Linked DNA regions of Homo sapiens. The protein of the gene in region 1 purifies or fractionates together with the protein of each later gene. This does not show direct contact. Each region holds a gene or a part of one and is shown in the gene's direction. Other genes may lie near its edges.

Region 1 (4,544 bases):
AGTGGTGTGATCTCAGCTCACCGCAACCTCTGCCTCCTGGGTTCATGCCATTCTCCTACCTCAGCCTCCCGAGCAGCTGGGATTACAGGCTCCTGCCGCCACGCCTGCCTCCATCTCCCCAAGTGCTGGGATTACAGGTGTGGCCCACCACCCCCGGCTTTTTTCAACAAGCCTTTCATATGCCCTCTCAGCCCAGGCCTCCACAATCCTAAGGTGGGGACCCTTATCCTGTCCATTTTACAGATGAGGAAACTGAGGCACACAGAAGTTAAGGCATTTGCCTGCAGATACACAGCCAACAACTGTTAGAACTCAGGCCCACACCCATGAGGCTCGAGAAGCCCTGTTCTTGGTGCCTTCCATGTGGACAGCACCATACACCTTTGCCTGATTCAAAATGACCCCTTCAGGCTGGGTGCAGTGGTTCATACCTGTAATCCCAGCATGTTGGGAGGCGGAGGCAGTAGGATCACCTGAGGTCAGGCGTTCCAGACCAGCCTGACCAACATGGAGAAACGCTGTCTCTACTAAAAATACAAAATTAGCAGGGCGTGGTGGCACATGCCTGTAATCCCACCTACTTGGGAGGCTGAGGCAGGAGAATTGCTTGAACCCAGGAGGCGGAGGTTGCCGTGAGCGGAGATTGTGCCACTGCACTCCAGCCTGGGTGACAGAGAGAGACTCCGTCTAAAAAAAAAAAAAAAAAAAAAGGCCAAGCATGGTGGCTCACGCCTGTAATCCCAGCACTTTGAGAGGCCGGGGTGGGCGGATCACGAGGTCAGGAGATCGAGAACATCCTGGCTAACATGCTGAAACCCCGTCTCTACTAAGAATACAAAAAAAATTAGCTGGGCGTGCTGGCGGGTGCCTGTAGTCCCAGCTGCTCAGGAGGCTGAGGTAGGAGAATGGCGTGAACCTGGGAGGCGGAGCTTACAGCCAGCCGAGATCGCGCCACTGCACTCCAGCCTGGGCGACAGAGTGAGACTCCGTCTCAAAAAAAAAAAAAAAAAAAAAAAAAAAAGGGCTTGGTAAATATTTGAAGGATGAGCAAGCGAATTCTTCGTGCCCCATGCTCGCTCCCCTGACAGGCCAAGGGGCAGTTTAAGAAACAGTCAGTGGCCAACGGTGTGGAGATATCTGTGCCTGTACCCAGCGATGCCGACTCCCCCAGATTCAAGACCAGTGTGGGCAGCGCCAAGTATGTGCCGGAGAGAAACGTCGTGATTTGGAGTATTAAGTCTTTCCCGGTAAGTACCAGGGACTGGCGGGGGATCTGGGGGTGGAGGGGACTGGAGTAGTGTGGGGGCTGCCCAGGAGCCATGAGAACAAGGCAGAGAACAAATCAGAGACCCAGTCAGGTGTGATGGCTCATGACTGGAATGCCAGTACTTTGAGAGGCTGACACGGGCAGATCGCTTGAACCCAGGAGCTGGAGACCAGCCTGGGGAACACAGTGAGACCCTGCCTCTATAAAAATATTAAGAGGAGCTGGGCGCAGTGGCTCACGCCTGAAATCCCAGCCTGGCTAACATAGAGACGGCTAACATCCGTCTCTAGTAAAAGTACAAAAATTAGCTGGGTGTGGTGGCGCATGCCTGTAATCCCAGCCACTCGGGACACTGAGGCAGGAGAATTGCTTGAACCCGGGAGGCAGAGGTTGCAGTGAGCTGAGATTGTGCCACTGCACACTCCAGCCTGGGCAACAGAACGAGACTCCGTCTCAAAAAAAAAAAAAAAAGATTAAAAGGCCAGACATGGTGGCTCATACCTGTAATCCCAGCACTTTGGGAGGCTGAAGCGGGCAGATCACCTGAGGTCAGAAGTTCAAGACCAGCCTGGCCAACATGGTGAAAACCCGTCTCTACTAAAAATACAAAAATTAGGGCAGGGCACGGTGGCTCACGCCTGTAATCCCAGCACTTTGGGAGGCCGAGGTGGGCGGATCACGAGGTCAGGAGATCGAGACCATCCTGGCTAACATGGTGAAACCCCATCTCTACTAAAAATACAAAAAATTAGCCGGGCGTGGTTGCAGGCGCCTGTAGTCCCAGCTATTTGGGAGGCTGAGGCAGGAGAATGGCCTGAACTCGGGAGGTGGAGCTTGCAGTGAGCAGAGATCACGCCACTGCACTCCAGCCTGGGTGACAGAGCGAGACTCCATTTCAAAAAAAAAAAAAAAAAAAAAATTAGCCGGGCATGGGGGTGTGCGCCTGTAGTACCAGCTACTCAGGAGGCTGAGGCAGGAGAATCACTTGAACCCGGGAGGCGGAGGTTGCAGTGAGTTGAGATCACGCCACCGCACTCCAGCCTGGGTGACAGAGTGAAACTCTGTCTCAAGAAAAAAAAAAAAACTTAGAAAAAAGAAATACAAGGCCAGGCGCAGTGGCTCACGCCTGTAATTCCCAGCACTTTGGGAGGCTGAGGCGGGCAGATTACGAGGTCAGGAGATCGAGACCATCCTGGCTAACACTGTGAAACCCCGTCTCTACTAAAAATACAAAAAAAAAAAAAATTAGCTGGGCGTGGTGGCGGGCGCCTGTAGTCCCAGCTACCGGGAGGCTGAGGCAGGAGAATGGCGTGAACCTGGGAGGCGGAGCTTGCAGTGAGCCAAGACCGCACCACTACACTCCAGCCTGGGCGACAGAGTAAGACTCCATCTCAAAAAAAAAAAAAAAGAAAAAAAAAGAAAAAAAAAGAAAAAAGAAATACAAGTAAATCAGAGAGGTACGTATGTATGCAAGTGATCAAGCTTGAAACCAGGCCAGTCTATTTCACAGACGTGTAAACTTCCATGACGGGAAGTGTGTGGATTTAAATATCCCCCTGCCAATGTCTTGAGGAAACCAGCCCTGGGTTCACCTTCCTCACTATTGCTTTGCTGAGCTGGGTGGGTTTGGGAAACCCATTTCCACTTAAGGAGGCTCAGTTTGCCTGTCTGTGAAATGGGCAGGATGAGGTGACCCACATCCCTTGGCTACTAGAGGTTTTGGTTTGTCCCCATGATCTTGGGAGAGGTGGATCATCAGTGCCTGTAAAACAGGACATGGTAGTTAAAAAAAGAAAAAAACCCTGATTGGGTTTTGCAGTCAGAATCTTCCCTGGTGAGTCTCTGTCACCCAGGTTGGGGTGCAGTGGTGAGATCATGGCTCACTGCAGCCTCAAACTCCCAGACTCAAGGGATCTTCCTGCCTCAGCCTCCCAAGTAGCTGAAACTGCAGGCATGTTCCACCGCACCCAGCTAATTTTTAAACTTTTTGTAGACATGGTATCTCAATATGTTGCCCAGGCTAAGGAGCCTTTATTTTCCTGTCTGTGAAATGGGCTGTGAGCAGATCTGACTCCAGGGGTTGCTGAAAGGAAGGTCTCGGGAGGGTAGGCGGACCCTCGTGTACCTGATGCCCCCATGTTCCCTCAGGGGGGCAAGGAGTACTTGATGCGAGCCCACTTTGGCCTCCCCAGTGTGGAAAAGGAAGAGGTGGAGGGCCGGCCCCCCATCGGGGTCAAGTTTGAGATCCCCTACTTCACCGTCTCTGGGATCCAGGTGAGAGAAGCAGGCAGGGAGGATCCTCCCCTTGACTTCGGTGGGTTCCCCTCTCTCCTGTCCCTTGGCTCGAGTCACCTCAGTCCCCTGGCCTGTGTCAACACTCCTCTGAAGGCTGCCTGGTCTTTCCCAGAGCAATGTTACCTTTATCTGCCCACAGCCTGTGCTCCCTCTCCCCCGGCCTGTGCCACCTTGTTCCCCACCGGCTTGTTCACTTCTGTCCCTTCTCCACCTCCAAAGCCATTCACCATTCCGTTGCCTGTGCCACCTCATCCCCCTAAGACCATGTGATATCCCCTCATCGATCCCAGCCTGTGCCACATAGCCGCTTGGCCTAAGCCGTCTCTTTCTCCCTGGCCCTGGCCTCCTCCCTCCTGCAATCCTGGACCACCTCTTTTCATTCCCTTCCAGGTCCGATACATGAAGATCATTGAGAAAAGTGGTTACCAGGCCCTGCCCTGGGTTCGCTACATCACCCAGAGTGGCGGTAAGGCAGCCCAGCTCCTGGGGACAATGGGGTGAGGGAAAGGCAGTGGGTAGGGACTCGAGGCTTTCACCACATTCTGGCTCAGAAAACCAACAAGGGTCAGGTGTGATGGTTCAGGTGTGTAATCCTAGCACTTTGGGAGGCCAAGGCGGGTGGATCTCTTGAGGCCGGGAGTTCGAGACCAACCTGGCCAACATGGTGAAACCCTGTTTCTACTAAAAATACAAAAATTAGCCGGGTGTGGTGGTGTATGCCTATAATCCAAGCTACTCAGGAAGCTGAGGCAGAATTGCTTGAACCCGGGAGGTGGAGGTTGCAGTGAGCTGAGATCGTGCCACTGCACTCCTGCCTGGTCGACAGAAACCCTGTCTCAAAAAATGAAAAAGAAAGCAAACTGCCCCTTCTTGTCATGGCACCCTGGGCCTTGGTTTGCACGTCTTTAAAATGGGGGCAGTTGGCTGGGTGTGGTGGCTCACATCTGTAATTCCAGCACTTTGGGAGGCTGAGGTGGGAGGA
Region 2 (5,473 bases), on another chromosome or scaffold:
GTCTTGCTATGTTACCCAGGTTTGTGTGGAACTCCTGGCCTCAAGCACTCCTTCCTCCTTGGCGTCCCAAAGTACTGGGATTATAGGCATGAGCCACTGAAGTCAGTTGACTGTATACCTTTTTATCACTCTTTGAAATGGCATTTGCTGCTAGATTTGAAGTTGAAATGTTTCCAGATATGTTCACTTATCCAGGGAACCTAGAAAAGACTGTAGGACAGGATTTTCTTCTCTTTTCTTTTCCTTTCTTTTCCTTTCCTTCCTTTCTTTCTTTCTTTCTTTTTCTTTCTTTTCTTTCTCTCTCTTTTTTGTTCCTTCCTTCCTTCCTTCCTTCTTTCCTTCCATCTTCTTTCCTTCTTTCTTTTCTTTCTTCTCTTCTCTTTCTTCCCTTTCTTTTCTTTCTTCTGTTTCTTCTCTTTCTTTTCTCTCTCTTCTTTCTCACTGTAGCCTCAACCTCCTAGGCTCAGGCAATCCTCCTACCTCAACCTCCCAGAGTAGCTGAACTACAGGCACCCACCACCACACCCAGCTAATTTTTGTATTTTTTGGTGAGATGGAGTTTCACCGTGTTGCCCAGGCTGGTCTCGAACTCCTGAGCTCAGGTGATCTCCCACCTCGGCCTCCCAAGATGTTGGGATGACAGGTGTGAGTCACCCTGCTTGGGCAGGATTTTCTAGTCACTGAAAACGGTATATTTTACTGGTTCCAAGTGTCCCTTTCCATTGTTTTTTTCAGGTATGCACCTTCCAAACGATGGCATATAGACACAATTATGCGTGTTTTGACAACGGTAAGTAGCTTCTTTCAGACAGCATATACGAAGTGCTGGGATATACTGATGTTATCATGAAGTTTATGTTCTAGTCAGGGAGGTAAGAAATTCACAAGTAAATAGGTAACATTAATGTCAGTTAGGAATAAATGCCATGAAGAAAAACCTAAAGCAGCATGGAGGAATATAATGATGGCAGGATAAGGTGGGATATAGGGCAACTGGCCAAGTGTTTTAGATTAGAGTTAGTCAGGGAGGTCTCTCAGAGGAGATAACATTTGAGTAGAGACCTAAGAGACATGAGGTGCAAGCCATGCAGAGATCGTGAGGAATAGTGTACCATACGGAGGGAACCCTAAGTGCAAAGACCTGAGGTAGGAACAAGCATAGCTTGCTTGGAGAGCAACAGGAAGGCAAGTGAAGCCATAAAGTGAGAGAGGCAGAGAATGGTAGGATGGATGTCAGAGACATAAGCGGAGCCAGACTATGTAGGCCTCATGGGAGCTTGCATTTTATTTTGAATATGTTAGGAAGCCATTGCAGGGTTTTGAATGGCTAAAGTTACTCAGGATTTGAAATCCTGTTTTGGATGGGATCCTTTCTTTGGCATTCTTGCAGAAATTCAGGGTTTCTGTGTTTATTATTCAATTAGTAGGCAAGGATTAGGTATTTAAGAGTAAAAATGAAAGTGCAGTGACATGTAAAGAAAACCATTTCCATTAATTAAGTCACTAGAAGTAGCTACTGTAAAGGAAAAGCCACAAATTTAACCATATTAAAATTTAAAAATTGAATAACAAAAAGGGGAACAGTCTACGATTTAAAAGGCAAATTAACAACTGGGGAAAACATTAACTTATGACAGCATATTAATATATTCAATCTATGAATAATTTATAATTGATAGGAAATACCACTCTAATGGAAAAATTGGTATTTGAACCAGCAATTCATGAAGAAAGAAATGGCTAATTAACATTTGAAAAAATTTTCTTATTAAAGAAATAAAGTAAAATTGAGGTATCATTTTTCACATTTCGTATTTTTTAATCTAATTCCCAGTGTTAGAAAATAGAGAAACAGGCAGTACTCTTCACTTTATGGGAGTATAGGATGATGCCATCTTTTTACTATGCAGTTTGGTAGCATGTAGGAAAAGCCTTAAATTGTACCCTTTGATTCATTAATTCAATTTTTAGGACTTTAGCCTGAAAAAATAATAGGACAAGTACACAAAAATGTGTATGTAAAAGTATTCATCCTAATATTGTTTATAGTAGGAGAAAACCGGAAACAACTAGTAGTCCCCAAATGGGGATTAAGTAAATTATGAAACATCTGTAGGGAGAAAATTATATCATTGAAATTATGACTTATATGTATTTGTTGACTTATGAAATTATGACTTATATGTATATGTATTTGTTGCTGTGGAATTCTCTCTGGGGCATACTCGTTTTTTAGTTTACTTACAATGAATTAACTTGGTAAAAGGTTAAAAGTTAATAAATTTGATTAGCAAGGGGAAAAATTATAATCTAACAAAATGTAATTAACATAATGATGAACAGGACATGTTTTCCTAGTTTTCATGAGGCTCAAAAGAAGGGAGAAATTAACACTCCTGAAGGAAAGTGTTTATGAGAATTCAAAAGCTTTTTTTTTGTGCCCCTGATTTTATTTTTCTAACTGACTTGTGTTCTCTTATGATCATGTGATTTGTTTTCTTTAGCCTGTTACATGCTGGGTTACATTGATATTTGAATGCCTAACCAGCCTTACATACCTGGAATACGTGGTCAGGGTATATTATTCTTTTTATAACTTTGTTGGGTTTGATTTGCTAATATCTTGTTGAGTATTTTTATATGTGTATTCATGAGAGAGATTGGCTTATAGTTTTCTCTTATAATGTTGTTTTTGACCCATGTGTTATTTAGAAGTATGTTCTTTTAATCTCCAAATATTTTGGGATTTTTTTGCACCTGTCTTTGTGTTGCAGATTTCTAGTTTAATTCTGTGTGGTCTAAGAGCATACTGTCTATGATTTATGTTATTTGAAATTTGTTAAGATATTTTTTATGACCCAGAATATGGTCTTTCTTGGTTCAGTGTAAGTTTAAGAAAAATGTGTATTCTGCTGCTGTTGAATGAAGTAGTCTTATTATACAAACCCATTAGATCACCCTGATGCTTTCTTGTATTTAATGCACTCTGCTTTACGGAAGGATGTAAATAAACTATACTGCAAATTACCTGCTTTTTAGCTTCTCACCTTTCCTTCTGATCATTTTCCCAGAATTCTTCCTCTGTCTTTGTGTTTCTTAACAGGAGTGACCTGATAAAACCCTGATCACCTGGCTGTTTTTTTTTTTTTTTCTTTTTTTTCCTTTCCAAAATACACATGGTTAGGACTGGTCTCAGTCTTACAAATTAAATCTATTGTTCTATTTAGGAATGGGAGATTGACCAAGGTTGGGTGATAAAGTTTTAAACCTTTACATTATTATTATTATTATTATTATTGTTGGTAGTGATGGAGTCTTGCTGTGTGGCCCAGGCTTGTGTCAAACTCCTGGCCTCAAGCAGTCATCTTGCTTCAGCCATCCAAAGTGCTGCGATTACAGGTGTGAGCCACTGTGTCCAGCCTTCCTTTTTTAATTTGGACAAAGAGAAATTTTTTTTTTTTTTTTTTTGAGACGGAGTCTCAGTCTGTTGCTCAGGCTGGAGTGCAGTGGCGCAAACTCGGCTCACTGCAAGCTCGGCCTCCTGGGTTCACGCCATTCTGCTGTCTCAGCCTCCTGAGTAGCTGGGACTACAAGCACCCACCACATGCCCGGCTAATTTTTTGTATTTTTAGTAGAGACGGGGTTTCATCGTGTTAGCCAGGATGGTCTCGATCTCCTGACCTTGTGATCCACCCGCCTTGGCCTCCCAAAGTGCTGGGATTACAGGCGTGAGCCACCACACCCGGCCTTTGGACAAAGAGAAAATTTTTAAAAATAAAATAAAATTTAAAAATGTAACATATTTAAATAAGACTTTGAAGTTTGAGCTGTTATGAACCTGAGAATTGGAACCAAATTTATCTTTGAGGGTGTTTTCTGGTATTCTTCTTTTAAAAACAATAGTAATGGCTGGGCGCAGTGGCACACGCCTGTAATCCCAGCACTTTGAGAGGCCGAGGCAGGTGGATCATCTGAGGTCAGGAGTTCGAGACCACCCTGACCAACATGGTGAAACCCCATCTCTACTAAAAATAGAAAAAATTAGCCAGGTGTGGTGGCATGTACCTGTAGTCCCAGCTACTTGGGAGGCTGAGGCATGAGAATCGCTTGAACCTGGGAGGTGGAGGTTGCAGTGAGCCAAGATCGCGCTATCGCACTCCAGCCTGGGTGACAGAGCGAGACTCTGTCTCAAAAAAAGAAAGGAAAAAACACACAGTAATAATAATAGCTAACACTTGTTATCATCATTTCTGTGTGTTTCTAGGGGTAATTGTCTGCATTTCCTTTTAGGCAGGAAGTTATGTTCGTGATGATGCAGTCCCCAATTTAATCCAGTTAATAACTAATAGTGTGGAGATGCATGCCTATACTGTCCAGCGCCTGTACAAAGCAATTCTTGGTGATTATTCTCAAGTAAGTACTTCATTCAACTATTTTAGGGGGTAATTTTACCCTCAATTTTTCTGGTATGTTTTTCTTCTTTTTTTTCCCCCCTCCTCTCTCCCCTTTGGTATGTCTTTATTTCTAACACTCTAGATATGCACAGTTTTGATCTTTATTATGAGATGACCTATGATTTGCATTAAATAACTTTGGAAAAATTGAAGTTCTTGAGAAACGTTGACTTTTCTTTTCACAGCAACCTTTGGTACAAGTGGCTGCATGGTGTATAGGTGAATATGGTGATCTTCTTGTATCTGGCCAGTGTGAAGAGGAAGAGCCTATTCAGGTACTCCTTGTCACTCTTGGTTAAGTGGGGGAAAATAGTGGTTTTGGTTATAGGAGAGTAGTGTTTAATGGGGAGTTGAGGTTGATTCCTTGAAAACTTTTTAGGCCAGGCGTGGTGGCTCATGCCTATAATCCCAGCGCTTTGGGAGGCTGAGATGGGAGCATCGCTTGAGCCCAGGAGTTTGAGACCAGCCTGGGCAACATGGTGAAACTCTGTCTCTACAAAAGACACAAATATTAGACAGGTATGATGGTGTCTAGTCCCAGCTACTCAGGAGTGAGACCCTGTCTCAAAAAAATTTAAAAAATACCCAACTTTTTAAAGAAGCAAACGCGAATTATATTGGAAAACCTGCCATTTTTTGAGATGGAACTTATTGAGCCATTGTGAGGTTTTTTGTTTTTTTTTTTTTAATAGAGTCTCACTCTGTCACCCAAGCTGGAGTGCCATGGTGGGATCACAATTCACTGCAGCCTTGATCTCCTGGGTTTCAAGCGATCTTCCCACCTCAGCCTCCTGAGTAGCTGGGACTATAGGCAGGCACCACCCTGGCTAGTTTATTCTACTTTTTTTTTGTAGAGACAGGGTTTCACCGTGTTGCCCAGGCTGGTCTTGAACTTCTGGACTCAAGCAATCTGCCTGCCTTGGCCTCTCAAAGTGTTGGGATTAACAGGCATTGCTGAGTGTGGTGGCTCATGCCTGTAATCCCAGCACTTTGGGAGGCCAAGGCGGGTGGATCATGAG

Evidence for each region. The genes of interacting proteins can lie anywhere in the genome.
Region 2: the proteins of AP1M2 (region 1) and AP1G1 purify together in Homo sapiens (affinity purification with mass spectrometry; 6 studies listed by BioGRID and IntAct, with this or other methods). This does not show direct contact.

What each region holds. Positions count from the first base shown.
Region 1 is NC_000019.10:10,573,901-10,578,444, reverse strand, and holds part of AP1M2 (AP-1 complex subunit mu-2), read left to right. Parts: intron 1-1,088; coding exon 1,089-1,247; intron 1,248-3,415; coding exon 3,416-3,541; intron 3,542-3,952; coding exon 3,953-4,028; intron 4,029-4,544. UniProt on the Homo sapiens protein: Subunit of clathrin-associated adaptor protein complex 1 that plays a role in protein sorting in the trans-Golgi network (TGN) and endosomes.
Region 2 is NC_000016.10:71,749,150-71,754,622, reverse strand, and holds part of AP1G1 (AP-1 complex subunit gamma-1), read left to right. Parts: intron 1-735; coding exon 736-790; intron 791-4,290; coding exon 4,291-4,413; intron 4,414-4,639; coding exon 4,640-4,729; intron 4,730-5,473. UniProt on the Homo sapiens protein: Subunit of clathrin-associated adaptor protein complex 1 that plays a role in protein sorting in the late-Golgi/trans-Golgi network (TGN) and/or endosomes.